Linked DNA regions of Homo sapiens. The protein of the gene in region 3 interacts with the protein of the main gene of each other region in a pairwise test. Each region holds a gene or a part of one and is shown on either strand. Other genes may lie near its edges. The genes, in order: ARHGEF6, ARHGEF7, SH2D1A and SLAMF6.

Region 1 (8,168 bases), about 12 Mb from region 3:
GATCCTGTAGATATTCAGTACATATTTGCAGATGGACAATGGGAAATGGAAAATTAAGAAATCAAACAAATCACTGAGTCTGGCAATTCAAGACTGACTCACATAATACCATCTATCTTAAATTCTAGCACATTCCCACAGAACTATTTGTAATAAGCTACGAAATTAACTTGTCAGAAGCATTTTATACCATAGGTAGCAAAATTACCTCTTTATAACCTAGTGCTGCTGATGGTCTAAGTGGAGGTGCAGGTCGTAGACAACTTAAACTCCACGGTTTTATAATTTGAGGAGGCTCCAAGGGTCCTCGGGGCTGTCCGGTAGAGCTAAAAGACTGGGAAAATGTCTGATGAGATGTTGGCAATCTGCCATCTGAACCCGACCTTGTGCCACACAGTGAGAGAACAACAATAGCTTCATTGGATTAGCAAAGACAGCCATAGAAAGGGATAGATGGAAAAACAAAAGTCTCTAGTTTGAGAACTGGTTCTTTCCAGTCCAGATTATCGGGTCTCTAAGAAACAGCACAAAATTGACTCAACATTCCATGATCCTGTCCTCTCTTTCTCATCTGGAATTTAATTAATTTAATTTTCTTTCCTCTGTAAGGAAGGAAAATGGAGTAGCAGTCAACATTTGAGTTCAGTGATATGTTTGGCACTCTAGTAGGTGCTTAAATAGGTTATTTCATGAGAACAGCCTAAGACATAGACTCAGTCAAGGGAAGCAACTAACTAGTAATTGGCAAAGCCAAGATTTGAACCCAGATCTGAAGCCAAAGTCCATATTCTTCCAACCACAACACACAGTCCTCAAAACTGGAATTTTGGCATCATAGGTTTGTATGTTAACAAACAACACAGCATATCTTCCATCTCACTCAGCAAGTACAGTAAAATCTCATCAATTCAAATTCCAATGTCTAAATTTGTGATAACTCAGAAGGAGATAATGCTAAAAGTTTACCTTTGAAGAAGGTTACTGAGCAAATGTGAGAGCATGAGTGAGATGACATGGAGATGTTTAAGTACTTAGGGAGGTAAACTATTTGTTTCGACTTAGCCCACTGTTAGTAGGAGAATAACCATTGCTCATGGAAATAAGCCTTGCTTATCATTAAAATATTTTAGCAGGACTTCTGGTTAGAAATACTTTGCTAGCAGTTAGTTGGGGTATCTGAATACTGTCAAACAGAACTGCACACTCTAAGTAAACCTTTTCATTAATTTGGATGGGCCTCATAATGAGAAATCAGAATGAGTGAGGTTTAACTGTACTTCAAAATCTACAAATATAGGCTGCCCAAAAGACTAAGGGTGTGCTCGCTGCTTCTTGTAAGTCTCCAGCAGGCAGGAGTTGACGAAAGACTCAATAATCTCTGGACAGAACACATGGACTACTTACAGAATGAGCACTACATGATGACGATGAGGTTTTGGATAATGAACTGCAAGAGGCAGGTCCTCTGATCAGTCTGTTCAGCTGCTCCAACCATTCCTGGAAGTCCTGGTTGTTGTTACAATGGACCACAATTCTCTCCACTGTGTTACCTACATCCCCCAATTATGATCAGTTTGAAAACAAAAGGCAAGGAAAAACTTGAGCTTGTCCCATTCATAAATAGACTTCATACAACTAGGACTTGGGTGTGTATTTTCAGGGGTTTTCATACCTATGGGATAACCCTGCTGAAATTTCTATATCAGAAACAGATAACCTGTGATTACAAAGTAAATAAATATTCATGTCTGATTTAGAAAACTGTCCTTGATTTTTACTGCTTACAGAAGCTTAAAAGTAGTGTAAAACTTCACCATAAACAAACTTGCAATCCAAAAACATAAGCACATAGTCCATCTAGTTAAGTCTAAAGTGGGAATATTGTCCTGGTTCCCCTGGTATCAAAGTTGGAACAAGATCCAACTAAGACTATTTACAACCTTTTGGCAAACACCAAACCTTAAGCTCCTTCTTGGGAAAGAAGAGGGTAAGGCCATGATCCCAGTCTTAGCCACTGTGCCATATCAGCACCAACAGTCAGGCCACTACATATAAATGACACAGACCTGGCAAAAGGGATCATAAGCTAAAATGTCAGGGGGCATTACTGAAGCCTGGCATTATGCTCAATTTGTGAAGAAAATTTGATGGCTTTTCAGAACTTTTTAGAAATACAACCAAATCTTACTAACTCATGGGCTGATGATAAAATTGCTGATAAAAGTCCATATCTTTGGCTCCTCTGCCACCAGGGAACAAATGACAGAGGGGAAGAAAATTGCGTTTACATCAGTCCATTTCGTTATTCCTTAGCTCTCACAAGTAGCTCTCATGCAACAGAAAATTGAAACTAATGGCAAAGCCATGGCTTTTGAATGAGAGGAGACTTCTCTGTGCTATTGCTGTACCCTAATTATCCCAGGAAATGGAATATACTTTGCCATGCCCGCATAAAATTTGCTCGTGGCCTATGTAACAGGAAATAATGGCATTTATTTATTAAATTCCCCTTCATTCCAAAAAGAATTGGAAGTAGTTACATGAAAAAGAGAAAATTACCTACCAGTGATTTCAAATGTGCAGTCATTCCCTTCAATTTCATCTAATCTAGTCACCACCGTTCCTGCTATTGGTATTTTTCCCTATTAGAAAAAGAACATTCTCATTAATTCTGCAGTTATACAGGTCTCTGTTTATTTCACTTAGATTTTCTGACCCTCTCAGCAAGGCAAAACTATGGCTAGACGTATTTCTCCAGTCTGTCAATAGATAATATGTTTCCCTGCTCTAAATTTTAATCAGACTAAGAAAGCAAGGGGAAAATGTGGATTGTGTTTGGCTAACACACCCTAAACTATAAGATCAGGATTTACAAAGCAGTTTACTTTTCTAACACATTTTCATAAGAATCAGTAAAAAAAAGTGAAGGCTCAGATGTTATGAAAATTATTAATTGCCAGGCCAAGATGGAACAGGCAATAGTAACTTATAATACTCTATATGTTGGGAGCTGACTGAGGGACATTTAATTTCCTAAGGAGTTTAATAACATGCTTCTTAGAAGCCTGAATCATGTGCTGTGACTATAATAAGACAAACATAGGAGCAGGTCCCAGCTTTATGTTTTCTCAGCAATAATGACATGGGCCTGTACAATACTGCTGCTAATTTATCTAGTTTCCATTTATGCATGCAAAACCTAGTGCATAACTAAAGCGGTGGATATATTCAAGATAAACTCATTATACTAATACAAAGGTCTTTGATCTAAGGAACATCTGCTCTTACAAGCTCTTTAATTACAATGAAGGGTCAGAACATTCTGGTTCTCCTGGCTTGAGCTTTTAATGCCATAGTGGAGATATTGCATCTGGATGGAAACCTGTTTTCGTTAGGGGGTCTGCTATGTGTTTTATATGAAATTTACTAACCTGATAGATAAAGCCACTCATCCGAGGACTTGCAGATAACATTATCAGGACATTTGAAAATAACATAAGGTACCGCTCCTCTTTTTCCTGAGAGGGAATGAAAATAATACATGAAGAACAGAATTGGACACTTTATCTGTTGAGAATTTCTGGAATCACTGCCTTATAACATAGACCTTATATAAACAACTGAAACATTAACGGTAATTTTTTTTTTAAAAAAGATACCCAACTTGAAAACACAAAACTAGTTGAATTTTACTTTGACATGGACATAAACCCACAGTTTATCTCTCTTCTTCTTATACATAACAATTAAATACAAATAACCATGCTTGCTTTCCATGTATGAAAGCCTGAGAAGTCACCACAGTTTATGCAGCCAGTGAGATGTGCTAGACCTGGGCACAAAATAAGTCTCCAGGTTCACAAAATGAAAATATATTTTACTTTGAAAAAATGGCAAGATGAAGGGGTTTTCAGGTGATAAGAGATTTAGTATGCTCTAACATGTTTGTTAAAGTCGTATTCATAAAATTAGCTTTGGTCATTAAGAACAAGATAATTATTGGATTTATGTAAAACATAAAAGTAGATACACTTTCTTTTTTTTTTCTTGAGACGGAGTTTCGCTCTTTTTGCCCAGGTTGGAGTGCAATGGCACGATCTCGGCTCACCACAACCTCCACCTCCCGGGTTCAAGCGATTCTCCTGCCTCAGCCTCCCAAGTAGCTGGGATTACACACATGTGCCACCACTCCCGGCTAATTTTGTATTTTTAGTAGAGATGGGGTTTCTCCATGTTGGTCAGGGTGGTCTCAAACTCCCGACTTCAGGTGATCCACCCACCTCAGCCTCCCATACACTTTTTAATGGCACTGAGGAAACCTTGAAACGTGAGGGCTGCTGTGAGCCCCTTCAACAGATATGCAATTAGTATACGCAAAAATTACGTTTGCCTTCCATGCCCAGCCATCTTAGCTACAATTATCCTTATGCCTGTCTCCATCTCCTTCCTTCCATTTGAGAAGAGCAACCCTTCCAGGCTAACTATTCTAACAAGTGCTCCACATTCTCTCACATCTTTGTTTCACTTAGTTTTCCTCTACAGACACCTCTTCTTCTCCCAGCATCCTCTTCTCTTTTACTAGCTGTTCCTCTTTTTCTTTAACATATGTACACCTCCTATCCTAACAGACCTTGGCTTGCCCCCATGTGGCCCTTTATGCATAATATCCCATTTCTTGACATTTTATTGGCAAATTACTTGCTGCCTTCATTTTCTCTGCATTGATCCATCCCTAACTGCACCCCCATTGCTCTTGGAAAGTCATCAGTAACTGCCTTCTAGCAAAATCCAATGGCTTCCTCTTGGTCTTCACATTCCTTGCCCTCTGAACCTTCAGCAGCAGTCAGCACACTGGCCATTTTCAAATGCTCCTCGTGGAATTTCCATGACACCATGCTCCCCCAGTTCTTCTCTACCTTCCTCTTTGTCTTTTTATTTTTTCTGGCACTGATTCCTCCTGCCTTCACCCAAGGGGTTTATCCCAAAGGTGTGAATGACTAATAGTTAGACTCACTGCAGTAACCTTCCCTGGGGTATTTGCATTTTAAATGAGATTGCTTATTAACCCAAAGTAATGAATCTCCGCCAAAGACGTGTCAGAGAGCGTAGGAAGATGTTTTGGGAGAAGGAAGACAATTCTAACACCCGATACATCAAACCAGGTGCCATAATCAACCTTTCTCCCTTTCCCTGGCTCCTTCCTAAAAGAAATAATCCATCTTCAGCTCCCCCCACCCCCCGGGCTTCTCTCTGGATATTTACTTCCTAGGAAGGCACATCTGTTAGGGACATCTAAGTCTCTGCCTCTAACTCTGACCTCTCACTCACATTTCCATACTACATTAACAGCTGCCTATGGGACATCTCCACCCAGATATCTACAGGTCTAAAATTATATTCTTCATCTCCTCTAACCCAGGGGCACCACTTCCTGTTGGCTTTCCCTTCTAAAGATGCCTCCAATTTGCTCCTTCTGCTCCATTCCCAGTGTTACCACCGTCTTAGGGGACTCCTTCTCACTTTCCATCCCAGCTGGCCTTTCTGCTTCTCGTCCATTCCCTCCAGTTCATTTGACATATATAGGTCGCAGATTAGTGTGAAACATCCCTTTCGGAGTGTTGTTCTATGACTGTGGACTCTTTCATTATTTCCCATGGCCTGTTGCATCCATCTGAACTACTCTTGCCTGATGTCAAGCTTCTGCATAGTCTAATTCTACCTGACTCAATCAATCTTTTACTAGGGCCAAGTTGCTTCTTTTGCTCCCTACAGGCTGGTTTCCTTACTGTGCTGCAGCAAACCAAAGCCACATTTCTGTTCTCTCCTAAGATAACAATGACCTCTGCCTTGCGAAATCCTCCCCTTTTGTTTTTGTGCCCCCTCCTCAAGTCCTGTCTCCGTAAGGTCTTCTTGATCTCTCCCTCCTGTGAACTTCTATGGACTCTTGTTGAGATTGCAAAATCGAACATTGACTATTTGGTTTGTCAGCTAGTTGCAACTTGTGTTTTAGTCTGTTTTTAATGAGTTCTTTGAAAACAGGGATCATTGCTTGTTCTTTTCTCCTATCTCCCACAGCACCTAGCAGAATGTTCAACAAAGAACAGGTGCTCAGCTTCTGATTTGAATGTTGTAGCATTTGACTTTGATGGAAGAACAAGGAAGAAAAACTACTTAAGAGGCTCAGGCAGGAGGATTGCTTGAACCCAGGAGGCAGAGGTTGCAGTGAGCCAAGATGGCACCACTGCACTCCAGCCTGAGTGACAGAACAAGACTCCGTCAAAAAAAAAAAAAAAAAAGGAAGAAAAATACGAAAGATGGAAGAAATAATGTTGAGATTTGAAATACCTTACCTCACATGCTCCATACTGCACCATTACTTGTGACATAAAAATCACATTTCCCAAGTTTTTAATATCTTCTCCTTCCCATGCCTGAATAGGTTCGGACAGTATCTGTAACTCCAGCTGTTTTCTCTTCCTCAGATCTTGACATTGCCCCTACAGAACCAAAGCAGAACATAATGGAATAGGAATTCTTATGAAATAGACTAAAATAAGACCAAAGTAAGATGTGGCTTCTGACTCTTTGGTTCCCACTGAGTCCCTATTCCTCATCATGAATCCCATGACCCAGGCCTGTTCTTGATAGACAGAAAGATCCACTACCCTAAATCTCTAGGCTTGAGCCCCCAAAGGTTTTGTGAGGAAGGCCTATTTTTCATTTTGCCAAAGCATCAAAACATAATGCTAGAAAGAGCTTATTTCTCCCTCCCTGTAAAGAATATGGGAAAGCAAGCAGCCAAATCACACTGACCAGAGCCAGGTGAGGACCTGGTAGATTCAGATCTACTGGTTGGTGCCCCTGCTTTAGCTCCTCTTACCTTGTCTATCTTTGCATAAATAGGGCTTTAGTGACAAAATAATTGTATTTCTAACATATGCTCAATTTTCAACAAGGTAACATCTTGAAAATAATAAAAAACAAAAAATTTCTCCTGGAGTTATAGTGAAAGAGAAAATTAAATTCTTTATGCCACAGTGAATCAAACTTATAATGAAACCTAGGCACTGCTGTACTTTGTTTAAGGACCAAGATTGCTGTGAAAAAAATACTAAATTAGTTTTTATTCCTAAAAGGATTGGAAAAAAGAGATACAACTGAATTTCATGATGACATACTGAAATTTCAAACCAAGAAAAAATTACAGTTTGCCAACACTATGTGGGGTATGAATACTCTTTCTATATATATGTGTGTGTATGTGTGTGTATATATATATATATATATATATATATACACATATATATATATATATACACACATATATATATACACATGTGTATATATATATACACATATATATATATACACATATATATATACATATATATATATATATATATATATATATCTCACTGCTTAAGAAACTGTGAGGTTATCTTAGAGTAATTTAACAGCATGCCTTCCAAATTGAATACAAAAATAAGCACATGGTTAGTTCTGTTACTGTTTCCAAATGAATGTAAGATAATATTTTGGGGTTATATTTTCTATAAAATCTCTGCTGTCCCTTTCAGCTACATGGAAACTCAAAGAAATAAATTCACTGTACACATATTTTAAGAGCACCTATAGTAGGAATAAATATACTAAACCATCAAGGCAAGTTATATAATATAATCAGAAAGAAATACAGGTTTTTAAAAAGACTCATTTTACATTCCTATTTATACAAGAAAAAATAGAAGAACCATAATTATAATAAATGCTGTGGGTTTCACTGGGCTGTTCTATTAGCTTGCGCCATGTAAAACTGCCAATATTGGACTGTTTTTGGCATATAACAATGGCAATTTTAATCTAATACTTACTCTGGTCTTCAACTTACTGTTCAACTACAGACACGTCAATTACTGATCTTTCAACAAGGATTAATAATTAAACATTAGTCCAAATCACTTATAATGCTACAGAATTGTGTGAAATGAAGCTAAGTTTAATCAATTGCCCAAAATGAAGTTTTCTTTCCTCCTAAAATGGCACCAAGTGGTTTTATATCAGTGGGTTCAAGAAGATACATTAACCATCATACTGAAGATACAAGATCACGTGTACCTTTGATAGCAACCTATATAAAGCACTTGCATTTTAGTTCTTTAGGTTTTTTC
Region 2 (8,427 bases), on a different chromosome or scaffold from region 3:
ACCTCCTTTGACTAAATACCCTAGGGATGTTTAAAGTGAATTTGTGAGAAAAGGGCTTCCAGGGCTCCCTAGACGTCATGACCTCTGCTCACGGGAGGAGTGTGGGAAGCCGAAGACATGGGCAGCCCAGCCAAACATCCTGACCCCTCCTGGAGAAAACCAAAGTGCAGGATCTCCAGATACAGAGAAGGCGAAAACTTTTTAATCCCATTTTCCTCTCCCCTACAGCAGAAAACATCTGTCCAGTATAATGAAAAGTGTCTCTTTTCTGAACTGTTCATGTAAAGTTTATAATTCCATCTTCTCACTGTCTAACCTTCCACCTTAAAAGCAAAGCGGGAACCTGGGTGGAAAGTTTCCTTTAAATGAGCAGAAGAATCTGACACGCCGTGAACGTCCTCTCTGCTCCCTCCACCCTCTTCCTAACTCTGAAACAGAACAAATGAGCGTAATGGAAGAAACACATTAGGGCATGGTTTCTTAATAAAAGACATATGGGAAGCCCGAGGCACCCAGCCACGTTTTAGTTCTGCCCTCATCCCCAGCCTCATGGCCCATGCCAGGTTGTGAGCCTGCAGAGGCGAAGGCTGCAGGCCACTTGCCCTCCGCTCACTGGCTGTCAGGGCACTCCTGCAGCAGAGGTCAAGCGAAGCCCCTGTCATGTCCACATGAACATTCAGTTAAGTTTCCAAATGCTTCTTTTTAAGGAAAAAACATCCTCAGACTCACATTCCCACATTTAAGTAAAAGTTATTCAGCATGTGTGCTTTGTGGCATAGATTATCTGGTAAGCATGAAAACACCAAAAACCCAGATAACTGGCTGGGCGTGGTGGCTCACGCCTGTAATCCCAGCACTTTGGGAGGCCTAGATGGGACAATCCCTTGAGGCCCGGAGTTCAAGACCAGCCTGGCCAACATAGCAAGAACCCATCTCGAAGGAAGGAAGGAAGGAGAAAGAAAGAGAGAGAGAGACAGAGAGAGAGAGAGAAAGAAAGAAAGAGAAAAAGAAAAGAAAGAAAGAAACCCAGATAACTCTGCCTAGCAAATGGAAAAAGCTCACAAAACTTCTGAAACACAGGGATCTCAGAGGCAGAAAACGGCTAATATTTTACTCCAAAAACCTACCTTTGAACTCCAGAGAACCAGTAACTGTGTCTACAATACGCTGCCTTCACATTAAACTTTCATTGTGACAGAGTCAGTTTAACACAAACCAACTGGAGCTCAGGGGGAATCAAAAACAGCTCTGACCTAAGAAATTTCCAGATGACTGTAGTTTTAGAATATGTTGAGTTGTTTCAACTTGGCTTCTGCAAGCTCAACATTTTATTCGTTCTTCTCTTTGTTGTTTTAGAGATGAAATGAACGCTACGGTTTTCTAGGAAAATCTTTCTATAATTTAAAAGAAAATGATTATTGAAGTCGGCCAATCAATATTAATACAGTTAATATGCCAAACAACATATTCTTTGATGGCGACATGTTTTTATCAATACAGCATATGACACTTCTTAAAGCTTTGCTCTTAGGGATGGAACAGAATTTTATTTAAGCCTATTTTGGTGAACTTTGCATGCATTTCAACACTTTTCAACATCTGTCTTTCATTACCAGAGGTACCAGTATCCAAACAGCAAAGTATTTTGAATGCCTTGAAAGTCAGCTCCTGCTCCTCAGTCCTCCTGTCTTAAATCATAATTTCACTGTGACATCAGGTTCATTTTTAAGGAACATTTTTATTTCATGGACAGGCAGGCAGCCATTCACTCTAATATGCAGATTCTGTTTTCATAAAGATGTTCCAAGTAAGAAAAATAGCTAAAAGTGGAATGCAAGCCAAATTCATATTAAATAAAATGTTTTCTGACCTCATTTAAAATGTAGCAAGAGAATATGTACATGTGAATGAAAAAAATTAAACATTTTACTTTTTCAAGTCACTTACGTGGCATTTTATTTACAAGTTGTTGTCATCCTGTATGGGGGCCAATACACCCCACTTAAAAACTGAAATCCTTCTTCCTAATTATGGTACACTTCAATTTCTATATTTAACACCTTTTAAATAACTGTTGATCTTAACGCTATATATTGGCCACCCCCACCCCCACCCCACCCCCCGAAGAAACACCCTGGGAATAAGATTTTAGTATTTTGAGCTACAGGGAGACATCGTTTTTAGAAACTCTCCTGCCTCCTCGGCCCTGCTGGCCGGCTTGTGGGCGATGAAAACAAACTTTAATCACTTCCAGAGATTCGGGTCAGGGTTCACACGCTCCAGCCTGGGAACCACCAGCCGGAAGGGAGAAGCAGTGCCTGCAGGACTAAAGGTTCTGTTCAGAACGAGGGAGGGACCTGAGAACGAAATCTAGAATTTTAACAAGCCTTGAAGAGTGCCAGGACTTAGACCCTGTGTCTGCCGTCCTCTCGGCTCGGATAGGTGGGGAATTTTCTCGAGGGGAAAGTAGTAGATCGTTTCACAGCGCAGCCCTCAGCTACAGATGCGTGCCTCTTTAAAAATACAGAGCAACCGGTCAATTAACCTGGGAGGCGAAACTCACGCAACGCCACCGGCAAGAACTGTCCACACAAAGCCAGCGGAGTGAGCCGCACCGCGTCGGAACGCGGTTTCCGATGCGGCTGCTGCCAGGGAGCGGGGCCGGCCCCCCACGCGGAGGGGCAACTTAGCGTTCGGGCGGCGCAGAAGCCCCGTCTCCTCGCTGCGGTGCACTCTCCTTCCCGGGGACCCCCGCCGCCCGCGCCGCCCCTCCCCCCGACCCCGCTCCCCGGCCCCCTCCCCCTGCCCCGCACACAATGGCGCCCCCCGAGCTCCCGCCACGGTCCTGGCGCCGGCCGCGCCGCCGCTCCGCGCACAAAGGAGGGCGCACGGGTTTCCCGAGCGCGGCCGGCCTCAGGTGCTCCGCGCGCATCCCGGGCCGCAGCGGGCCGGACCGGGGGGCGCGGGCGGGGGCGCGGGCCGGGACTTACTTTCTCGATGGTCCCGGGGAGCAGGCGCTCCAGCAGCCTGCAGAGGACCACCCCATCCTTCAGCGACGCCTGCAGAAAGCCCTCCGGGTCCGAGATGGTTTTTTTGGGCGACTCCAGCACCCCCAGAGTGATGAGCCACGTAACGGTTTGCTCGGCGGAATTCATCGCTGCGGCCCGGGAGGCAGGCGGGGAGGGGCGCGCGCCTTCACCTCGGAGCGGCGGCCCGGCCCGCGGCCCCCGCCGCCGCCGCCGCCGCCTCGCCCATCGAGCGGCCGGCGCCGGCGATTGGCTCGGCGCGGCCCAGCAGGTCCGGCCCGGCCCGCTTCTCCGTGCGCCCCGGCCCGCTGTCAGGCGCCTTCTCAGGAGCGGCTCGGGAACCTGCGGGCGCCCGCCGCCGCCCCCCGGCCTCGGCCGCCGTCGCCCAATGACATCACCGCCAGGAGAAGAAAGACGCGGCCGTCCGCCCGGCCCGCGCCCGGCCCGCGCCGCCCCGCGCCCTGCGCAGCCTCCGCTCCAGGCCGTGCGCGGGGCGGCGGCGGCGGCTGGGAGCGGGCGGGGAAGGGAAAGGGGAAGGGGAGCGGGGAGCGGATGGGGAGGGAGCCGGGGGTGGGGGCGGGCGCGCACCTGCGCTTACCTGCCCCGGGCCCGCCGTGCGCCCCGCGCCCCTGGCCGGGGCACTCGGAAGCCTTTGTTTATGTTTTGAATTCGTGAGCGTTGAAATGATGAAGTACTTCCCAGAATGCTCTTTTTATTTTTGCCGGTTTTATTTCAAGGTGGCGGGGACAGGCTGAAAACGAGACGTTTGTTTCGCTTTGCTACCTTGCAAGCCGGTCATGACGGAACAGAAATGATGGTTCCATCTGAAGCCATATGGGTCTGAATCGGGAGGAACCGACTCTCCGGAGCGCGGCGCCGACCTCACCGGCAGGGCAGGGGCCTGCGCGACTCTGCTCTAGACGGACGGTGACGCTTCAGACCCTGCCGGGGGAAGGTCAAGGAAACGGCGTGGCCTGAAGTGGGGCTGTGCAGAGGGCCGGGCCGGGCCGGGCCGGGCGCCTGGCTGCGTCTCGGGGACGCCGAAGATCTGGGCTGTGAAAGCAGCAGGCCGAACCTGGAGAGCCCAGACGGCAAGTGTCGCGTCATGCGCGAGCTTCCTCGAACAACTGATGACACGCACACATTGACATGCGAGGAAGAAATGGAGCCTCTTCTTAAAAGGACACGAGTCTCCACTCACTCCATCCACTGTCCCTGGGCGCTCCCCCAGTTTGCTCGCTATGACCCGCGGGCAGTTTAACAAGCAAAGCACTTAGTCTATGCCAGGCACATACATTAATCCATTCAATGACAAAGGCTAGAAAGCATATAAAGCTTCCAAAAATAATCAGAGGCTTAAGTCGTCTCCCCCTGCCTTCTGCCGGTGGATTTCTCTTGCAATCACTAATTGCTTTTATTTCTAGCCTTGAGTTAAGTGGTTAAAATTTTCTTTGCAAATACAAAAAATATTCAAATGGCAGTATGAATTCTGGATTACGAGGACAATGTGCTCAGTGATAACAGCGACTGGTTAGGAACCGTCACAAAGTGCTGTCTACTGCCTCGCCTCCCATCATGGTCCCCTTTTACTGATCAGATGCCGAACAAGTGGCAGAGATAAGACCCAAAGCTCGGCTCCTACCAGGAAAGGCATACCTAACCCGTTTCCTACTGCTGCCCTATAAGCTTTCTAGGAAACAGGAGGGCAATTAACAGCTACATCAAGGCTTGTACCCAGTGTCTTCGTGGAAGGAAAGATGTCAACCCGGGGCGTGGTTGTACACCGAGACTTCTGTTCACTTTCCTTACTGCTGAATTAGAGAAATAATTTAATGCAGTCCTTACCATTTCGAATCCTACTAAATTCGGTTTGATACTTATAAGGTGGTAGACTTGAGTAAGATTCAAATAGACTCAATTAAATGGTCCTATAGAAAGCCAATTCTAGGGAGTGACCTTACGAGACCAGTGAAGCAGAGAGCCAATTCTTGTCGGACTGGAGACCCACAGTCCAGGTATTACAACTCGTCTTTTCTTGGTGGGGAGAAGCCCAGACTTTTAAACACTTTATGGTTACTAGTTGCGTTCTTTTATGTTGGGTATTTATTAATTTCAGAAAAAGAGTTTACTTGGAAGGGATTTTAGAAAGTAACATTGCTCAAAGCTAGATATTTTTAGGTGCTTAATTGAGTTGTTTTAGTATCCAAAGTGGGCATTTTGGTTAAACTTTCCTTAGCACTTTTCCAGGTTCCTATTACAGAGGCCACGCGGAGTGCAATCTGGTGCCCATCACTTTTGGGCTATTGGGTTAGCTCGAGTTAAGACTATTGTCTAAGGGGAAGTTTAGCCCTTTCTGTGGCTCTCCTCTGGACTTGCCTCAAGAGGTGGAGAATGGCTTTCCACGCAAGCCTGTGGCTTCGCTTCCTTCGTTTCTAATGAGAGAATGTCAGCCTCACACCCAGCTTGGCTGCTTGCTAGTGCCTGGTAGGCACCTTCCACATCACTGTTAGGAGTTCACGCACAAACCCTACTGCAAACCAGTTACCACCCAAAGCTCAGCTGAACCCTGCCAACTCAGCGTGTGTGGGGTCACTATAAAAATGCCAAAATCTAAAAAATAAGGCAAAATTCACTCCAAACTTAAGCTGGACAATCAGATGACCATTTACCTAGAGTGGGTAGTAATCACTCCCTGTAGAACTACCCTTATCCAACTGGACCCTGTCTAGATTGGAGAATGCACTACGAAGTGGCTCTATGCAGCTCATTGTATCTGCTGTGTGTTATTGTATGAAACAAGGTCCTGTTCATTTGGGATAAATATGATCAAATGCTAAAATTAAAAGATGCAAGGCAGGAAACATTAATTTATCAACACATATGGCTGGAGGAGTATGCAGGATCAGAAAGCATTTGACCAGTATAGTATATTATGAAACATGATGCCAACAAGACGCTTCTCCTGGTTGGGTTTCCCCCAGAAGCAGACCCTGAGCCCACAAATTGGGTGCAAGTGGCTTGCTAGGGAGTGACCCCAGGAAGGACAGTGAGGAAGGGGAGTGAAGCAGGTAAGGGAGTCAAGGGGTGAAAATGAGCACTAGGGCTCTGTTCCCCTGGGGGGCCCTTGAGAAACAAGTGGAACAGGTCTCAGCACCTTCTGGCCAGAGGGCAGGAAGGCTGACTTTACCCATGGACTCTGGATTGAGGGCTCCCCCACCAGTGACCTCTGATTCAGCAGAGCCCAACGTATCTTTTGGGGGACAATTCAACTGCAGGCATTAGCGTTATTTCATAAGCCAGCGCTTCCACCGCACCTGCTCCACATGCCAGTTCCGCACAGGTGAGCGGCACAGTCACTGTGATGGTGCAGAATGGGCGTGGGAGATTGCCACTCATGGCGCATCAACAATGGCATCTGTGACAGTGAGTTTTATGTGTCAACTTGACGAGGCTACAGGGTGCCCAGACATTTGGTTAAATATTATTCTGGGTGTGTCTGCGAAAGGGGGTTTTGGGATGTAATGAACATTTGAGTAAAGTAGATGGCCCTCCCCAATGTGGTGAGCTTTATCTAATCAGTTGAAGACCTGAATAGAAAAAAAGACTGACCTTCCCCAAGTAAGGGAGGATTTTCTCTGGTTCTTCAGCCTGTGGGCCCCCTGCAGAGCAGATGTGCCCACCTCCATAGTCACATGAGCTGCTTCCCTGTAATAAGTCTCTCTCCCCTCCCTCTGTCTCCCTTTCTCCCAATTGATCAGTTGGTCAATGGAAAGAGATTCTATTGGTCTGTTTCTCTGGAGAACGCTGACTGACACAGTGTCCTAAGGCCGTGCCATCTGGCTGGGGAGAGATGTGTCTTGGGATTCTCCCCCTGGGCATCTGCTTTCCAAGGTCCCCTCTGATACCATCTGCCTTGGTTTGTCCCCTCCTGTCCCCGAAGGCAGACCCTGAGCCAGGGCTTCAGTGCAGGCTGCCTATTTGGGAAGTGACCATGAAAAGCACAAAGGAGAAAATGGGACGATGGGACAGGGAAGGGGAGAAGCTAAACACAAGGCTGCCTTGTTGGCAGGTTATTGCTACGGGAACCTGGGCTGCAGTCCTACTGGGGCCTATGCATTTCTGGGAGAGGCCGTAACAAAGTCTCACAAGCTGGGCGGCTCAAATAAAAAGAAATATATTCTCTCCCATTTCTGAAGTTTGGAAGTCTGAAGTGAAGGTGTGGGCAGGATTGGTTCTTTCTGGGGCCCAGAGGGAGAATCTGCTGCAGGTTTCTCTCCCAGCTTCTGTGGGTGGCCAGCCATCCAAGGGAACCTCCTTGTACTGGGTATAAATCGCCCTAATCTCTGCCTCTGTGTTCACATGGACTTTTCTCCCTCTCTGTGTCAGTGTCTGAATTTCTCTCTTCTTATAAGCATGCTAGTCACTGGGTGAAGACCCACTCTGATCTGGGATGGCCTCATCTTGGCTTGATTGTATCTGTGAAGAACCTATTTCTAAATAAGGTTGCATTTACAGGTACTCGGAGTTAGGATTTCAACATATCTTTTGGTGGACAATTTTACTCCCAATAGTGCCCTTTGAGAAATCAGGACCCTGCCCCAGAAATATTACATGAGAGGAAGGGGAAGTGGAACTTACTATCATCACTCAGAAGGAACGTGGTGTCCTGGGATCTCTGTGATGCAGGATCGATTGGTGCATTCTGGTGTTACTATCCAGATCCATCCATTATGATTCCACCCATCATCATCTATTTGCTTCAGCAACTATTCATAATTCCTACTAGATTCAGTGTTTCATTCAGAATTGCCATATCTTGATAAGTCCTTCAGTTATATTTCAGCTAGAATTCTGCAAGAGGTACTGTTCTTTATCAGCTATATGTGTACTCTGAAACGTAGTTCCTACAGGAAAGGCAAGATAAATGCTCACTCATTTTCCATTGTTTACCACTTTTCAGCATCACGAGTTGGTGCTCCAGCATCCTGCAGAGGAGACCAGTGATTTTTCTGAATACCATTATGAATTCACAGACTTTGAAAAACACATTTGATACATTTCAATTTCTTATTTCCCTCTTCTTAATTTCTCTTTTTGGAATTCTTGGGAGACCTTTCTCCATGAGTCTCTTCCACTTCTGAATATCTGAGCAGAGGTAATGACAGCTTTTGTTGCAGACTATATTTTCAAAAGTCTTTTAAAGCAAACAGCCTTGGAAAGTAGATATACTGTTCCCCTTTTGGGAAGAGGACAAATTTGCTTGCCAACCAGTAGATTTAAAAAATGTCTGTCTCTGGGAGAGTTTGAGCAGGTTTGCTTGCAGTGCCTTTAAAGACTAGGGTTGCCCAAGCTTGAAGTCCCTTAGCTGTGACACAAGCCCACCATGCCTGCAGCCTTCCCC
Region 3 (8,168 bases):
GGTGGCTACCAGGGGCTCGTAGGGGCGTGCAGGGTGGGGATTGGGAAATTTGGGTCAAAGGATAAAAGATTTAGGTTAGGAGGAAAAAGTTCAAGAGATCTATTGTACAACGTGGCAACTATAGTTAAAAACAATGTATTGTATTCTTGAAAGTTGCTAAGAGAGTAGATTTTAAGTGTTCTCATCACAAAATGTAAGTATGTGAGGTAATGCATATGCTAATTATCCCAATTTAGCTATTACACATGTATACATATTTCAAAGCATCATGTCATACACAATACATATATACAATTTTGCCAGTTTAGAAATAAATATATAAATTAGGGAAAAATAAAGGAATTATAGCAGAAACAATGGTTCAAAATTACACTTTCTATGTCAAAGGTGAAGGTTTACAATGTTAATGCTGGCTGGGCACGATGGCTCACGCCTGTAATCCCAGCACTCTGGGAGGCTGAAGTGGGTGGATCACAAGGTCAGGAGTTCGAGACCAGCCTGGCCAACATGGTGAAACCCTGTCTCTACTAAAAATACAAAACAAACAAACAAAAAACTGCTGGGTGTGGTGGCACGCACCTGTAATCCCAGCCACACAGGAGGCTGAGGCAGGAGAATCGCTTGAGCCTGGAAGGCAGGGGTTGCAGTGAGCTGAGATCACACCACTGCACTCCAGGCTGGGCGACAGAGAGAGACTCCGTCTCAAAAAATATAAATAAATAAATAAACAAATAAAATCTTATGCCAAAATTCAAAAATGTTAGAGTCTTAGGTTTTCCAGAAAACTTTAAGTATGTGGACTATGTTGACATAAAATGATAGCATGTGTAATAGCAAAGACTTGGAACCAACCCAAATGTCCATCAATGATAGACTGGATTAAGAAAATGTGGCACATATACACCATGGAATACTATGCAGCCATAAAAAAGGATGAGTTCATGTCCTTTGTAGGGACATGGATGAAGCTGGAAACGATCATTCTCAGCAAACTATCGCAAGGACAGAAAACCAAACACTGCATGTTCTCACTCATAGGTGGGAATTGAACAATTAGAACACTTGGACACAGGAAGGGGAACATCACACACTGGGGCCTGTCCTGGGGTGGGGGGAGGGATAGCATTAGGAGATATACCTAATGTAAATGATGAGTTAATGGGTGCAGCACACCAACATGGCACATGTATACATATGTAACAAACCTGCACGTTGTGCACATGTACCCTAGAACTTAAAGTATTAAAAAAAACACACACAAAACAAAAAATAAAAATAAAAAAATAAAATGACAGTATGTGTAAAAAGTGGGCACAAGGGGATGCCACTCTGATTACAACTATTCAAAACTGTCTGTCCCTGTGTGTATATAAACTAGAAGTAAATTTAAACTAACGTAAATGCATTCTTGCATGTTATTTTTTCATGTAGTTATTTAAGTGACTAATTTTTTAAGAAAAACAAGCAGAATTACAATTTGGAGCCTTACAAACCTAGCCTAAGCAAATCACAACTCATAAAAATGTAATTCATTTTTTTAAATTGTTACATCCCCTTCAGGATTATATTTCCTCTGACTCCCTCCCTTAATACAGACAAACCAGCAATGTAGTGTACTTTTAACTTCCTTCCCTCATTAAAGCTTTTTTGGACTTTTTGATAATCCTAGAGTTTAAAATGTATCACCAAAAAAATCAGAACATGAATAATTGTTAAAGAACGGTGGAGTTTTATCATTGCCTTTAATTTATTTTAATTACTATAAAGCATGTGTTAATCTAGTCTCTGCTGATATTGAAATTTGTCTTTATTTCATCAAAAGTTGTCCCTAACTGTAAAAAAGTGTCCAGGTTAGAAATGGACAAGAAGCAAGAAGCAACCAACCTGACTTATTTCTTATTTTCTCAGTGGGTCAGTGTTGGGGACAGATCCTGGTTTAGAACTGACAAATCCACATCAATTCCTTTTTTATACCACGTCAAGTACTACACAAAAGAAAACATTTAGCTACATCTGACTTCTTCATGACATTTCAAATAAAGCAAGCCAGTACCTATGCCCTCTACGTCTATACGAACTAATGCTACATACAAAATTCAAGACACAACTATAATGATTTTTAACAAACGTTTCAGAACTTTTATATCCAGAGGAATAGTATCCTACACAAAGCCATTATTTTTGAGACTATACTCTGATTCAAGAGCTTTCCAAACTTACAATGGCCCAAACTTTATTCTTTCAGAGAGAATTTTAATTTTTGAAACAGTTGAAAGTCATTCAACTTCAAGTGTGATGGTAAAACTATGTGATATTTTGATGAGTCATGAAAATAAATATAACCACTTCTTCCCCTGAACTTCCATATCAAGTTTTATTTACGTATACTTATGATGTTCTAACTTTGTATTACAATTATTTATAGAGCTTTTATTCATATTAAAAAACACATATTACATGTTAACTTTACAAATATTAACTCATGTCATAATCATCATAACAACCCTGTGAGGTAAGTACTCTCATTATCACCATCTGCCGTTTTACAGGTAAGAAACCTGAGACACAGAAAGTTAAAGTAACCTGCCCAAGGGAAAATAGCTAGTTAAGGGTCAGAGCTGGGATGCACACCCAGAGATCTGGCTGGAAGATCTGGGCTCTTAACCACCATTCTGTGCTGCCCCTCTCTTATACTAGAGGGAATGTATTAACAAATTGGTCTTTAAGACAATTCCAAAAGCACAATTCTCAAAAAGGGAGGGAATCTGCTTGGACATGGAGCTAGAACTGTCCACTGAGAGAAGGAGGGCAGTGGAGGGAGCTGAAGGGAAGAGGCCAGGTGGGGAGAGCCCGAAAGAGATCAACCCAGACTCCCCCTTTGCTTAAGCTAAATGACATCTTCAGGCTAATCTTGCAACTTTAATTTTACATTGTCAACCAGAGTCAGTACTTGGCTTATTTGCCGTGAATTATCCATTCGGTGGTTTATATGTGGCAAACAATCCTAGGCTGGCTTTCAGGCTCACTTTACCACTGGATTGTATTCAGGAAATTGAAAATAATGTTGGTGGCCTAAGTTATCATGAAGATAAATGTGGCACCAAGGCACATATCCAATTGAATTCAAAAACTAAATGCAAGTTGTAATTTCTCACTAAATGAAGTTAAGTTATAATTTCAAGTTCTTTGCCACACTGTTCCCCTTTATTGCAACTGATAAACTGGAATTTTATTTCATCACTGCTCCTCCCCCATTTCTCCAGTTCAGTTGTTTGACAGGCACTTTATTCCCAGTTGTCCCTTTAAAACTTAAAGGACAAAAAGATAATTATGCATTTATCTAAAGACATACATGTCAAATGACTTCATTATGTGTCCTTGAAGCTAAAGAATTATAACAGCATTTCTTCTTCCAAATCTTCCATCAGATAAGTAGCAAACAAAGGCAGATATGTCCAGAAGGATGCCAACTATGGAAATAAACTATTTTTTGAGCTAATTATTTTAAATATTTTAAATTAGTTCTCGTCTTATCACCATCAATCCCACTGGGCAGTCAGAACTTTCCCAATGGCTGTCTACATTGAGGGTGAGAAGGGAAGAAATGTGAGAGAACATATGTACCTCAGTGAAAAGAAACTTGATGTATCTAAAAAAAACAAAGGGAATAAACTTAAAAAAAAAACTATCTGCATTAATAAGAGCATTCAGTACACTGGATAAATACAAGAACAGAACATAAAATCAGTAGCTTTCCTATGAAACAGAAAATATAGTGGAAACAGATCCCATTTATGATTTTTAAAAATCAGCATACACATTCATACACACAATAACTCGAAATAACAAAAAATGTATAAGACATACAAAAAGAAAACTATAAAACTTGATTGATGGATATAAACAAAAAAATTATAAATGGAGAGACTTATGTTATGGGAAGGGAAGACTAAATTATTTAAAGATGACAATTCATTCTTAGTTTATTAATAAATTTAATGTAACCCCAATGGTGTTTTCAAAAAAATTTTTGATACATAATAATTGTACATATTCATGGGGTACAGTGTGATGTTTCAACACATGTATGCATTGTAATAATCAAATCAGGGGATTTGAATATTTAGGATATTTATCACCTCAAACATTTATCATTTCTATATGTAAGAACATTTCAAGTACTCTCTTCTAGCTATTTCAAAATACATAAGATATTGTTAACTATAGTCACCGTACTGTGCGACTGAACACTAGAACCTATTTCTTCTATCTAACTGTCTGTTTGTACCCATTAGCCAACCTCTCTTCATCGCCTTCCACCCTTCCCAACCTCTGGTAACTATCATTTTACTCTCTATCTCCATATGATTGAGGAATCCCACTACAGGGTATCTATCAAAAGGAAAGGAAATCAATATATCAAAGGGATACTTGCGCCCATACATTTATCACAGTACTATTTACAGTAGCCAAGATATAGAAGAGTCCAGCAACAGATGAATGGATAAAGAAAATGTGCTATGCATATACAATTGAATACTATCTGGCCATTAAAAAGAATGAAATCCTGTTATTTGCAGAAATGTAAATAGAACTGGAAGTCATTATGTGAAGTGAAATAAGCCAGGCACAGAAAGACAAATATCATGTGTTCTCACTGGCATGTGAGAGCTAAAACATTTGGTCCAATGAATTTTTTTTAACTTAATAAAATGATTCTAGATTTCATTTTGAAGAACCAACAGATAAGAATAGCAAATAATTTTTAAAATATATTAAAACATTATCATACTATAGTGCTATCAGTGCAAGAATAAATGGATCAATTGAGACAAATAGATAGTCCAGAAACAGTAACTGTTATATATAAGAATTTAATATATGGTAAAGTCGGCTAGCAAATCAATGAAGAATGGAAGTTGTATTTATAAATTATATTAGGACAATTGCTAGCTATCTGGAAACAAAATCAAATTAGATCTTTTATCCACATCAAAATACAACTCCAAATGGAATTAAAGAGGTAAATGTAAACTAACAAAACCGTAATTTAAAACAAAAACTGCAGTGAAGTTTTATGACATATCTCAAGGGGAAAGGACTTTCTAGCCAAGGAAGAAATCAAACACAAAGAAAACGAGTGACGTATTTGACTACTAAAAAGTTTGATTTTTGTATGTGTCAAAAAAAGTAAGGGCAAACACCAAACTTAGAAAACATACCTTGCAACAGATCAAGGATTAGTATATATATAAATTTACAATGTGTTAAAAAAGTTTGATTTTTGTATGTGTCAAAAAAGTAAGGGCAAACACCAAACTTCGAAAGGATACCTTGCAATAGATCAAGGATTAGTGCACATATATATATATACACATAGAGTGTGTTTAAAAAAAGTATGATTCAACTGGTTAAATGAGAAAAATACACAAAAAGCCAAATCATGGGAGGAAATACAACAGCTTAACAACCATATAAAATGACAGTCACTAACCAAAGGAATATAAAATGTGGAAAATAAAGAGATAGAGTGTAAATATAAAATAAAGAATAACAGGCCAAATGTCAAGGGAAAATTTTCTTAACTACAATACCCACTTCTAGTGAGGGTGTGGTGAAATGGACACTGATGCATTACAGGTGAGCATGTAAATTGGAATAACCATTTAGGGAAAATATCTCATGATCATGTATATATCAAGAATCCTAAGCTGTTTATGTTTTCTGACCTAGAAATTCCACACTGGAAATTCATTCTAAGGAAATAATCATAAATGCAAGGAAACTTTAATGTACTGAAATATACATCCTGATGGAATTTATAATAACAAAAATATGGAATGAGTCAAATGTCTAAAAGTAGGTGACTGGCTAAGCAAAATATGGTATACTTACTAGCTAGCTGGACTACCATGCAGCCATTAAAAATAACATCTTAAAGTTGTCTCTAAGAACATTACATATGAGTGTATTTTTTTCATATTAAGTGGGAAATGGGAAACGTATACAATTGTAAGAATACAAGAACACAATCATATTTTTAACACATGTAAATTTATATATAAATATATATAAATATATATTTATAATAATATATATAAAAATATATATTTATAATAATATATATAAAATATATATATTTATAATAATATATAAAAATATACATATTTATAATATATATATAATATATTATATCTTATATACAATATATAATATATTATATCTTATATACAATATATAATATATCTTATATACAATATATAATATATTATATCTTATATACAATATATAATATATTATATCTTATATACAATATATAATATATTATATCTTATATACAATATATAATATATTATATCTTATATACAATATATAATATATTATATCTTATATACAATATATAATATATTATATCTTATATACAATATATAATATATTATATCTTATATACAATATATAATATATTATCTTATATACAATATATAATATATTATATCTTATATACAATATATAATATATTATATCTTATATACAATATATAATATATTATCTTATATACAATATATAATATATTCTATATTATACTATATAATATAGTATATAATATACTATATATAATATAGTATATATTATATATTATATATAGTATATAATATATATTTATATATTATATATAGTATATAATATATATTTATATATTATATATAGTATATAATATATATTTATATATTATATATAGTATATAATATATATTTATATATTATATATAGTATATAATATATATTTATATATTATATATTATATAATATTATATATAATATATATTTATATATTATATATTATATAATATTATATATAATATATATTTATATATTATATATTATATAATATTATATATAATATATATTTATATATTATATATTATATAATATTATATAATATATATTTATATATTATATATTTTATATTATATATTTATATATTATATATATTAGATATTTATATATATATAAATATATAACATTTGGTGTTTGCCCTTACTTTTTTTGACGCATACAAAAATCAAACTTTTTAGTAGTCAAATACGTCACTCGTAAGAATACAATTGTAAGAGCACACGTGCTCAAAAAGCAATTCATCTTATTAAAATATAGAAGAAAATTCACCTAATTTTTAGCAATAGTCATCTTTAGGTTATAAAACTATAGATGATTTTTCTCTAATTTCTATTATCTATATGTTTCAAATTTTCTATAATGAATAGGTATAAGGAACTATTTTTAATAGACTTATACAAAAATCTATATTTATTTAGAGAAAGTAATTGAAAGAAATACTTATTACTTAAAATGAAGGTGAGCAATCCTATAAATGGAAAACTCCTTTAGTGCTTTATGAAGCAGTTCAATTTTCGATTTTCTAAATCAGAACAGAAGAAAAGGCCATATCTGAAAGCCATGATTAGGAGGTTCAGAACTGGGGAAAAGGGCAAGCATCGTTTGAAAGTACAGTTTAAAGTACAGTTTGAAGGCATATGAAATGTATTATCTCTACAATAAAAATATAAAAACTATAGCTCAATTAAATCTTCTTGGTTAATAGGAGTAAACAAAAGATAGAATGAGAAACCATTCTGAGTAAACCCTACAATCAATGCATGTTTGTCAGCTATACCTTGTTGTCCATGTGTATATGATACCACTTATATTGTTATTTCGACTGCATATCATAAGTGTTCTGGTTTAAAATGAGTACGTGGTTTATTTCTAAATAAAATCTGATTTTATAATTACAGTGTAGCACCAAAAAGAGGGAATGAAATTTTTACATTTATCAAAAGGGACACTCAACTCAAAAACATTGAGAAACTGATAAAAGGCAATGTATCCTCATATCTTCCCTCTGCAGCACATTCTGGCTATCACCCTAACAGTCACATAAGACTTTGAGGCCCCAGTGTACCATTTGAAAGACACCGTAAGGGAACTCCCAATTTGTCTAGTATTTTCCGCTACTTCACAAGGAGGTTTTCATGGAGAACTAAGAGTCATAAAAACTGCATTTATGCAAGATTCACTTTGGGCGAAAACTTAAATGCTTGATAATTTCTCACCTGCCTAAGTTAATTCCTCATGTGGTTCCGGCCTACATAGGCAAAAGTCTAAAGC
Region 4 (8,168 bases), on a different chromosome or scaffold from region 3:
GGGACCCAGGTGAATAGGATCTGGAGTGGGCCCCCAGCAAACTGCAGCAGTCTTGCAAAAGAGGGTCCTGTCTGCTAAAAGAAAAACAAACAGAAAGCAACAACAACAGCATCAACAAAAAAGTCCCCACAAAAAGCCCATCCAAAGATCAGCAGACTCAAAGATCAAAGCTAGATAAACTCAGGAAGATGAGAAAGAATCAATAAAAAATGCTGAAAACTCAAAAAGCCAGAGTGTCTCTTCTCCTCCAAATGATTGTAACACCTCTCCAGCAGGGCACACAACTGGGCTCAGGCTGAGAAGGATGAACTGACAGAAGTAGGCTTCAGAAGGTGGGTAATAATGAACTTTGCCGAGCTAAAGGAGTATGTTCTAACTCAATGCAAAGAACCTAAGAATCAGGATAAAACATTACAGGAGCTATTCATCAGAATAACCAGCTTAGAGAGGAACATAAATGACTTGATGGAACTGAAAAACACAACATGAAAACATCACAATGCAATCATAAGTATCAATAGCCGAATAGACCAAGTGGAGGAAAGAATTTAAGAGATTGAAGACTATCTTGCTGAAATAAAATAGGCAGACAAGATTAGAGAAAAAGGAATGAAAAGGAACAAACAAAATCTCTGAGAATTATGGGATTATGTAAAGAGACCGAACCTACAACTGATTATGGTACCTGAAAGAGACAGGTGAATGAAACAAAGTTGGAAAACATACTTCACGATATCATCCAGGAGACTTCCCCAACCTAGCAAGACAGGCCAACATTCAAACTCAAGAAATACAAAGAACCCAGTAAGATACTCCATGAGAGGATCAACCACAAGACACATAATTATTAGATTCTTCAAGGTCAAAATGAAGGAAAAAATGTTAAGGGCAGCCAGAGAGAAAGGCCAAGTCACCTACAAAGGGAAGCCCATCAGAATAACATCAGGCCTCTCAGCAGAAACTTTACAAGCCAGAAGAGATTGGGGGTCAATATTCAACATTCTTAAAGAAAAGAATTTTCAACCCAGAATCTCATATCTGGCCAAATGAAGCTTCATAAGCAAAGGAGAAATAAAATATTTTTCAGACAATCAAATGCTGAGGGAATTCATCCACCACCAGGCTTGACTTGCAAGAGCTCCTGAAGGAAGCACTAAATATGGAAAGGAAAAGCCATTATCAGCCACTACAAAACATACTGAAGTACACAATGAAGACCAATGAAACTGTGAAGCAACTACATCAATAAGTCTGCAAAATAACTAGCTAGTATCATGATGACAGGATCAAATTCACACATAACAATACTAACTTTAAATATAAATGTGCTAAGTGCCCCATTTAAAAGACACAGAATGGCAAGCTGGGTAAATTGTGAAGACCCATTGGTGTGCTGTATTCAAGAGACTCATCTCACATGCAAACACACACATAGGTTCAAAATAAAGGGATAGAGGAAAATCTACCAGGCAAATGGAAACCAGAAAAAAGCAGGGATTGCAATCCTAGTTTCTGACAAAATAGACTTTAAAGCAATAAAGACCAAAAAAGACAAAGAAAGGCATGGTAAAGGGTTCAATTCAACAAGAAGAACTAACTATCCTAAATATGTATGCACCCAATACAAAAGCAGATTCCTAAAATAAGCTCTTAGAGACGTACAAGGAGATGTAGACTCCCACACAATAATAGCGGGAGACTTTAACATCCACTGTCAATATTAGGCAGATCATTCAGACAGAAAATTAACAAAGATATTCAGGACTTGAACTCAGCTCTAGATCAAGTGGACCTGATAGACCTCTACAAAACTCTCCATCCTACAACAACAGAATATTCATTCTATGCATTGCCACATGGAACTTACTCTAAAATTGATCACATAATTGGAAGTAAAACACTCCTCATCAAATACAAAAGAACTGAAATCACAACAAACAGTCTCTCAGACCACAGCATAATCAAATTAGAACTCAAGACAAAGAAACTCACTCAAAATCACATAGCTACATAGAAATTGAACAACCTGCTCCTGCATGACTCCTGGTTAAATAATGAAATTAAGGCAGAAAGCAAGAAGTTCTTTGAAACCAATGAGAACAAAGAGACAATGTATCAGAATCTCTGGATGCAGCTAAAGCAGCTGTTAAGAGGGAAATTTAGAGCACTAAATGCCCACATCAAAAACCTAGAAAGATCTCAAATTGAAATGCTAACATTAAAACTAAAAGAACTGGAGAACCAAGAGCAAACAAACTCCAAAGCTGGCAGAAGACAAGAAATAACCAAGATCAAAGCAGAACTGAAGGAGATAGATAAAAGAAGAATGCTTCAAAAAAATCAAGGAGTCCAGAATCTGGTTTTTTGAAAAACTAATAATATAGATAGACTGCTAGTTAGCTAGACTAACAAAGAAGAAAAGAGAGAAGAATCAAATGGACACAATAAAAAATGTTAAAAGAGGATATCACTACTGACCCCACAGAAATAAAAACAATCATCAGAGAATACTATAAACACCTCTATGCACATAACCTAGAAAATCTAGAAGAAATGGATAAATTCCTGGACACATACACCCTCCCAAGACTGAACCAGGAGGAAGCTGAATCCCTGAATAGACCAATAACAAATTCTGAAATTGAGACAGTAATAAATAGTCTAAAAGAAAAAGCCCAGGACCAGAAGGATTTACAGCTGAATTCTACTAGAGGTACAAAGAGGACCTGGCACCATTTCTTCTGAAACTATTCCAAACAATTGAAAAGGAGGGACCCTTCCCTAATTCATTTTATGAGGCCAGTATCATCCTGATACCAAAACCTGGCAGAGATACAACAAAAAAGAAAGCTTCAGGCCAATATCCTGATGAACACTGATGCAAAAATTCTCAATAAAATACTGGCAAACCAAATATAGCGGCACATCAAAAAGCTTATCCACCCTGATCGAGTTGGCTTTATTCCTGGGATGCAAGGCTGGTTCAACATATGCAAATCAATAAATGTAATTCATCTCATAAACAGATCTAAAGACAAAAACCACAGATTATCTTAATAGACACAGAAAAGGCCTTCTATAAAATTCAACATCCCTTCATGTTAAACACTCTCAATAAACCAGGTATTGATGGAACATATCTTAAAACAATAAGAGACATTTATGACAAACCAACAACCAATATTATACTGAATGGGCAAAACTGGAAGCATTTCTTGTGAAAACCAGCATAAGACAAGGATGCCCTCTCTCACCACTCCTATTCAGCATAGTATTAGAAGTTCTGACCAGGGCAATCAGGCAAGAGAAAGAAATAAAGCATATTCACACAGGAAGAGAGGAAGTCAAATTATCTTTGTTTGCAGATGACACGATCCTATATCTAGAAAACCCCATCATCTCAGCCCAAAAGCTTCTTAAGCTCACATGCAACTTCAGCAAGATCTCAGGAAACAAAATCAATGCAGAAGTTACAAGCATTCTTATACAACACACACAGGCAAGCAGAGAACCAAATCATGAATGAACTCCCATTCACAATTGTTACAAAGAGAATAAAATACTTAGGAATACAGCTAACAAAGGAAGTGAAGGAACCTCTTCAAAAAGAACTACAAACCACTGCTCAAGGAAACCAGAGAGGACACAAACAAATGGAAAAATATTCTGTGCTCATGGATAGGAAGAATCAACATCATGAAAATGACCATACTGCCCGAAGTAATTAATAGATTCACTACTATTCCCATTAAACTATCATTGACATTTTTCACAAAATTAGAAAAAACTATTTTAAAATTTATATGGAACCAAAAAAGGGCTCATATAGCCAAGACAATCCTAAGCAAAAGGAACAAAGCTGGAGGCATCATGCTACTGGACTTCAAACAATACTATAAGGCAGCAATAACCAAAACAGCACGGTACATGGTACTGGTACAAAACAGACACATAGACCAATGGAACAGAATAGAGAACCCATAAATAAGACTGCACATCTACCACTATCTGATCTTCAAAAAACGTGACAAAAACAAGCAATGGGGAAAGGATTCACTATTTAATAACTGGTGCTGGGAGAACTGGCTATCCATATGCAGAAAATTGAAACTGGACCCCTCCCTCACACCTTATACAAAAATTAACTCAAGATAGATTAAAGACTTAAATGTAAAACTCAAAACTATGAAAACCCTAGAATACAATCTAGGCAATGCCATTCAGGACATAGGCATGGGCAAAGATTTCATTATGAAATCACTGAAAGCAATTGCAACAAAAGCAAAAATTGACAAATGGGATCTAGTTAAACTGAAGAGCTTCTGCATAGCAGAAGAAACTATTATCAGAGCCAAGAGGCAACCTACAGAGTGGGAGAAAATTTTTGCAATCTATTCATCTGTTAAAGGTCTAATATCCAGATTCTACAAGGAACTCAAACAAATTTACAAGAAAAAAATCAAACAACCCCATTAAAAGGCGAGCAAAGGACATTAACAGACACTTCTCAAAAGAAGACATTCATGCAGCCAACAAACATGAAAAAAAGCTCAACATCACTGATCATTAGAAAAATACAATTGAAAACCACAATAAATTACCATCTCATGACAGAATAGTGATTATGAAAAAGTCAAGAAACAACAGATGCTTGTGAGGTTCTGGAGAAATAGGAACACTTTTACACTGTTGGGAATGTAAATTAGTTCAACCATTGTGGAAGACAGTGTGGCAAATCCTCAAAGATCTAGAACCAGAAATACCATTTGACCCAGCAATCCCATTTCTGGGTATATACCCAAAGGAATATAAATCGCTCTGTTACAAAGATATATGCATGCATATGTTCATTGCAGCACTATTCACAATAGCAAAGGCCTGGAATCAACCAAAATGCCCATCAATGACAGACGAGATAAAGAAAATGTGGAACATATACACCATGGAATACTATGCAGCCATCAAAAGGAATGAGATCATGTCCTTTGCAGGAATGTGGATGAAGCTGGAAGCCATTATCCTCAGCAAACTCATACAAGAACAGAAAACCAAACACTGCATGTTCTCACTTGTAAGTGGGAGCTGAACAGTGAGAACACATGGACACAGGGAGGGAAACAACATGCACTGGGGCCTCTTGGGGAGTGGGGTTGGGGGAGGGAGAGCATTAAGAAAAATAGATAATGCATGCTGGGCTTAATACCTAGGTGATGCGTTGGTAGGTGCAGCAAACCACCAGGGCACAGGTTTACCTATGTAACAAACCTGCACATACTGCACATGTACCCAGAACTAAAAATAAAAATTAAAAGAAAGAAATGTATTAATTAGTTCCCCCAACAAATATTTTCTGAATATCTGTAACTATGAATTCCATTAAACTTACTCTTCAGGTGTTAAAAAAAAAAAGAAGACATTTATGTGGCCAAGAAACATGGAAAAAAGCTCAACATCACTGGTCATTAGAGAAATGCACATCAAAACCACAATGGGATACCATCTCACACAGGTCAGAATGGCAATTATTTAGAAGTCAAGAAAAAACAGATGCTGGCAAGGCTGTGGAGAAATAGAAACTCTTTTACACTGTTGGTGGGAATGTAAATTAGTTCAACTATTCTGGAAGACAATGCGGGGACTCCTCAAAGACCTAGAGGCAGAAAGACAATTTGACCCAGCAATCCCATTACTGGGTATATACCCAAAAGAATATAAATCATTGTTATAAAGATATGTGTATGTGCATGTTCATTGCACGTGTATCTTCATTGCAGCACTATTCATAATAGCAAAGACATGAAATCAACCCAAATGCCCATCAATGATAGACCGGATAAAGAAAATGTGGTACGTATACACCACGGAATACTATGCAGCCATAAAAAGGAATGAAATCATGTCCTTTGCAGGGACATGGATGAAGCCAGAAGCCATTATTCTCAGCAAACTAATGCAGGAACAGAAAGCCAAACACCGCATGTTCTTTAAGTGGGAGCTGAACAATGAGAACACATGGACACAAGAAGGGGAATGACACACACTGGGGCCTGTCGGGGGTGGGGCAGGGGGGAGAGAGAGCATCAGGAAAAATAGCTAATGTATGCAGGGCTTAATACTTAGGTGAGGTTGATAGGTGCAGCAAACCACCAGGGCACATGTTTACCTATGTAACAAACTTGCATATCCTGCACGTGTATCCTGGAACTTAAAATAAAATGATAAAAAAGAAAAAAGATAAAAATAGGTAAATTGTGCTTCATCAAAATTAAAGACTTTTGTGCATCAAAGAACATTATTAAGAAAGTGAAAAGACAACCTACAGAATGGGAGAAAATATTTTCAGGTCATGTATTAAAGGTCTGGTTCCAAGAATGTATAAACAACTCTTATAACTCAATAGCAAAAAGACAAATAATTCAACTAAAATGGGCAAAGGACTTGAATAGACATTTCTCCAAAGAGGATATACAAATGGCCAATAAACACTTAAAAAGATACTCAAAATCATTTGTCATTGGGAAAATGTAAATCAAAACCACAATAATATACCACTTCACACCTATTAGGATGGTGATAATAATCTTTTTAAAAAGGAAAAAAACAAGTGTTGATGAGGATGTGGAGAAATTATAACTCTTGTACACAGCTAGTGGAAATGTAAAATGGTACAGCCATTGTGGAAAACAGTTTGGCAATTTCCCAAAAAGTTAAGCATAGAATTATATGATCTGACAAATCCATTCCTAGGTATATACCCAGATAAAAACAGGTAGTCAAATACTTGTACACATAGCAGCACTATTCGCAAGAGCCAAAAGGCAAAAACAACCCAGGTGTCCACTGATAGATAAATGGATAAATAAAATGTAGTATATACAGAATACAAAATACTATTCAGCCAAAAAGGAATGAAGTACTGATACATGGTTCAGCATAGGTGAACCTGGAAAACATGATGCTAAGTGAAAGAAGTCAGACACGAAAGGTCATATATTGTGTGATTTCATTTATATGAAATTATCCAGAATAGGTAAACCCACAGAGACAGAAAGCAGATCGGTATTTGCCAGGGGCTGGGGGGGAGGGGAGAATGGGAAATGACTGCTTAGTGGGTACAGGGTTTCCTTTTGGGGTGATGAAAATGTTTTAGAATAATAGAAGTGGTGGTTTCACAAAATGTACAAAATGTCACTTTAAAATTATTACATCCTGTTACAAGAATTTCACCTTAATAAAAAATGTCTGAGTGTGAACAGAGAAACAATCAAAGCTGAATCTGGGTTAAGGGACCAAAAACAGAGGCATGAACACCTGGAGGTCACATTGGAGATTGCAGATTCTGAGAGGTGGAAAAACACGTGTCTGAGGATAATGAAAAAATATAAAACAGCTCTCTGCCTGTTGAGCACAATAAACATTTGAAAGATGTGGACGGTTGGTAAAAAGTAGATAACACTGCTCGGGGGCCATCAGGTCACAATCTCTTCACAGAAGAGCATTGCACATTTTGACTCAACCTCAGAATCAGCCCTCATGTGTTTGCTTTACTTACATTTCCAACCACTGCTCTCTCCTGGACCTCAGAATACCTATATCTGCTTCCTGCAAACACACTCAAAGTTAGTTTCTATTTCTTCCTCCCTACAATCCCAGTATGACTGAAGTCCATTGGAATTTAGAACCTTGCTGCTTAGTGTGGTCCATGGACAGGCAGCATTGGTGTCACCTGGGAGCCTCTTAGAAATGCAGAATCTCAGTCCCTATTCCCCAATCAGCATTTTAATAAGATTCCCCCAAGTAATTTATATGCACATTTAAGTTTGACAAATTTCCAACTTTCCATCTATAAAAATCAAAATGAAGAAACAAACGAGATTTATTTTCTCTAGGAAGTCATGATGCTTGATTTTATTTACAATTATTGTTTTGTTCTGTTAGTTTTGCCACCCAGGGCTTGAGTTAAAGGAAATGGGATTATTTTTCAATATGGTTTGTCTTTTCCACTAAATTTTCTAAAAGGAGTCAGGATAGTGCCCAACCCACTTCAAAGAATGTAGGCTGGCATGAGTCATTGTTTTTCATGGTTGTTTCAAAGATTAATTTCATTTGCCCCACATTTTTGCAACAGTGGTCTTCTTTCCCTTCCTAAATCACTCCAGGCTCTTTCC

Evidence for each region.
Region 1: the proteins of SH2D1A (region 3) and ARHGEF6 interact in binary tests that used the Homo sapiens proteins (3 or more experiments, as listed by UniProt).
Region 2: the proteins of SH2D1A (region 3) and ARHGEF7 interact in binary tests that used the Homo sapiens proteins (3 or more experiments, as listed by UniProt).
Region 4: the proteins of SH2D1A (region 3) and SLAMF6 interact in binary tests that used the Homo sapiens proteins (3 or more experiments, as listed by UniProt).

What each region holds. Positions count from the first base shown.
Region 1 is NC_000023.11:136,679,327-136,687,494, forward strand, and holds part of ARHGEF6 (rho guanine nucleotide exchange factor 6), read right to left. Parts: intron 6,498-8,168; coding exon 6,351-6,497; intron 3,519-6,350; coding exon 3,432-3,518; intron 2,643-3,431; coding exon 2,564-2,642; intron 1,551-2,563; coding exon 1,405-1,550; intron 347-1,404; coding exon of another isoform or gene 335-346; coding exon 209-334; intron 1-208. UniProt on the Homo sapiens protein: Acts as a RAC1 guanine nucleotide exchange factor (GEF).
Region 2 is NC_000013.11:111,110,255-111,118,681, reverse strand, and holds the start of ARHGEF7 (rho guanine nucleotide exchange factor 7), read right to left. Parts: upstream 3,373-8,427; 5' UTR 3,156-3,372; coding exon 2,991-3,155; intron 1-2,990. UniProt on the Homo sapiens protein: Acts as a RAC1 guanine nucleotide exchange factor (GEF) and can induce membrane ruffling. Functions in cell migration, attachment and cell spreading. Promotes targeting of RAC1 to focal adhesions. May function as a positive regulator of apoptosis.
Region 3 is NC_000023.11:124,349,002-124,357,169, reverse strand, and holds part of SH2D1A (SH2 domain-containing protein 1A), read right to left. Parts: intron 1-8,168.
Region 4 is NC_000001.11:160,512,713-160,520,880, forward strand, and holds part of SLAMF6 (SLAM family member 6 isoform 1 precursor), read right to left. Parts: intron 1-8,168. UniProt on the Homo sapiens protein: Self-ligand receptor of the signaling lymphocytic activation molecule (SLAM) family.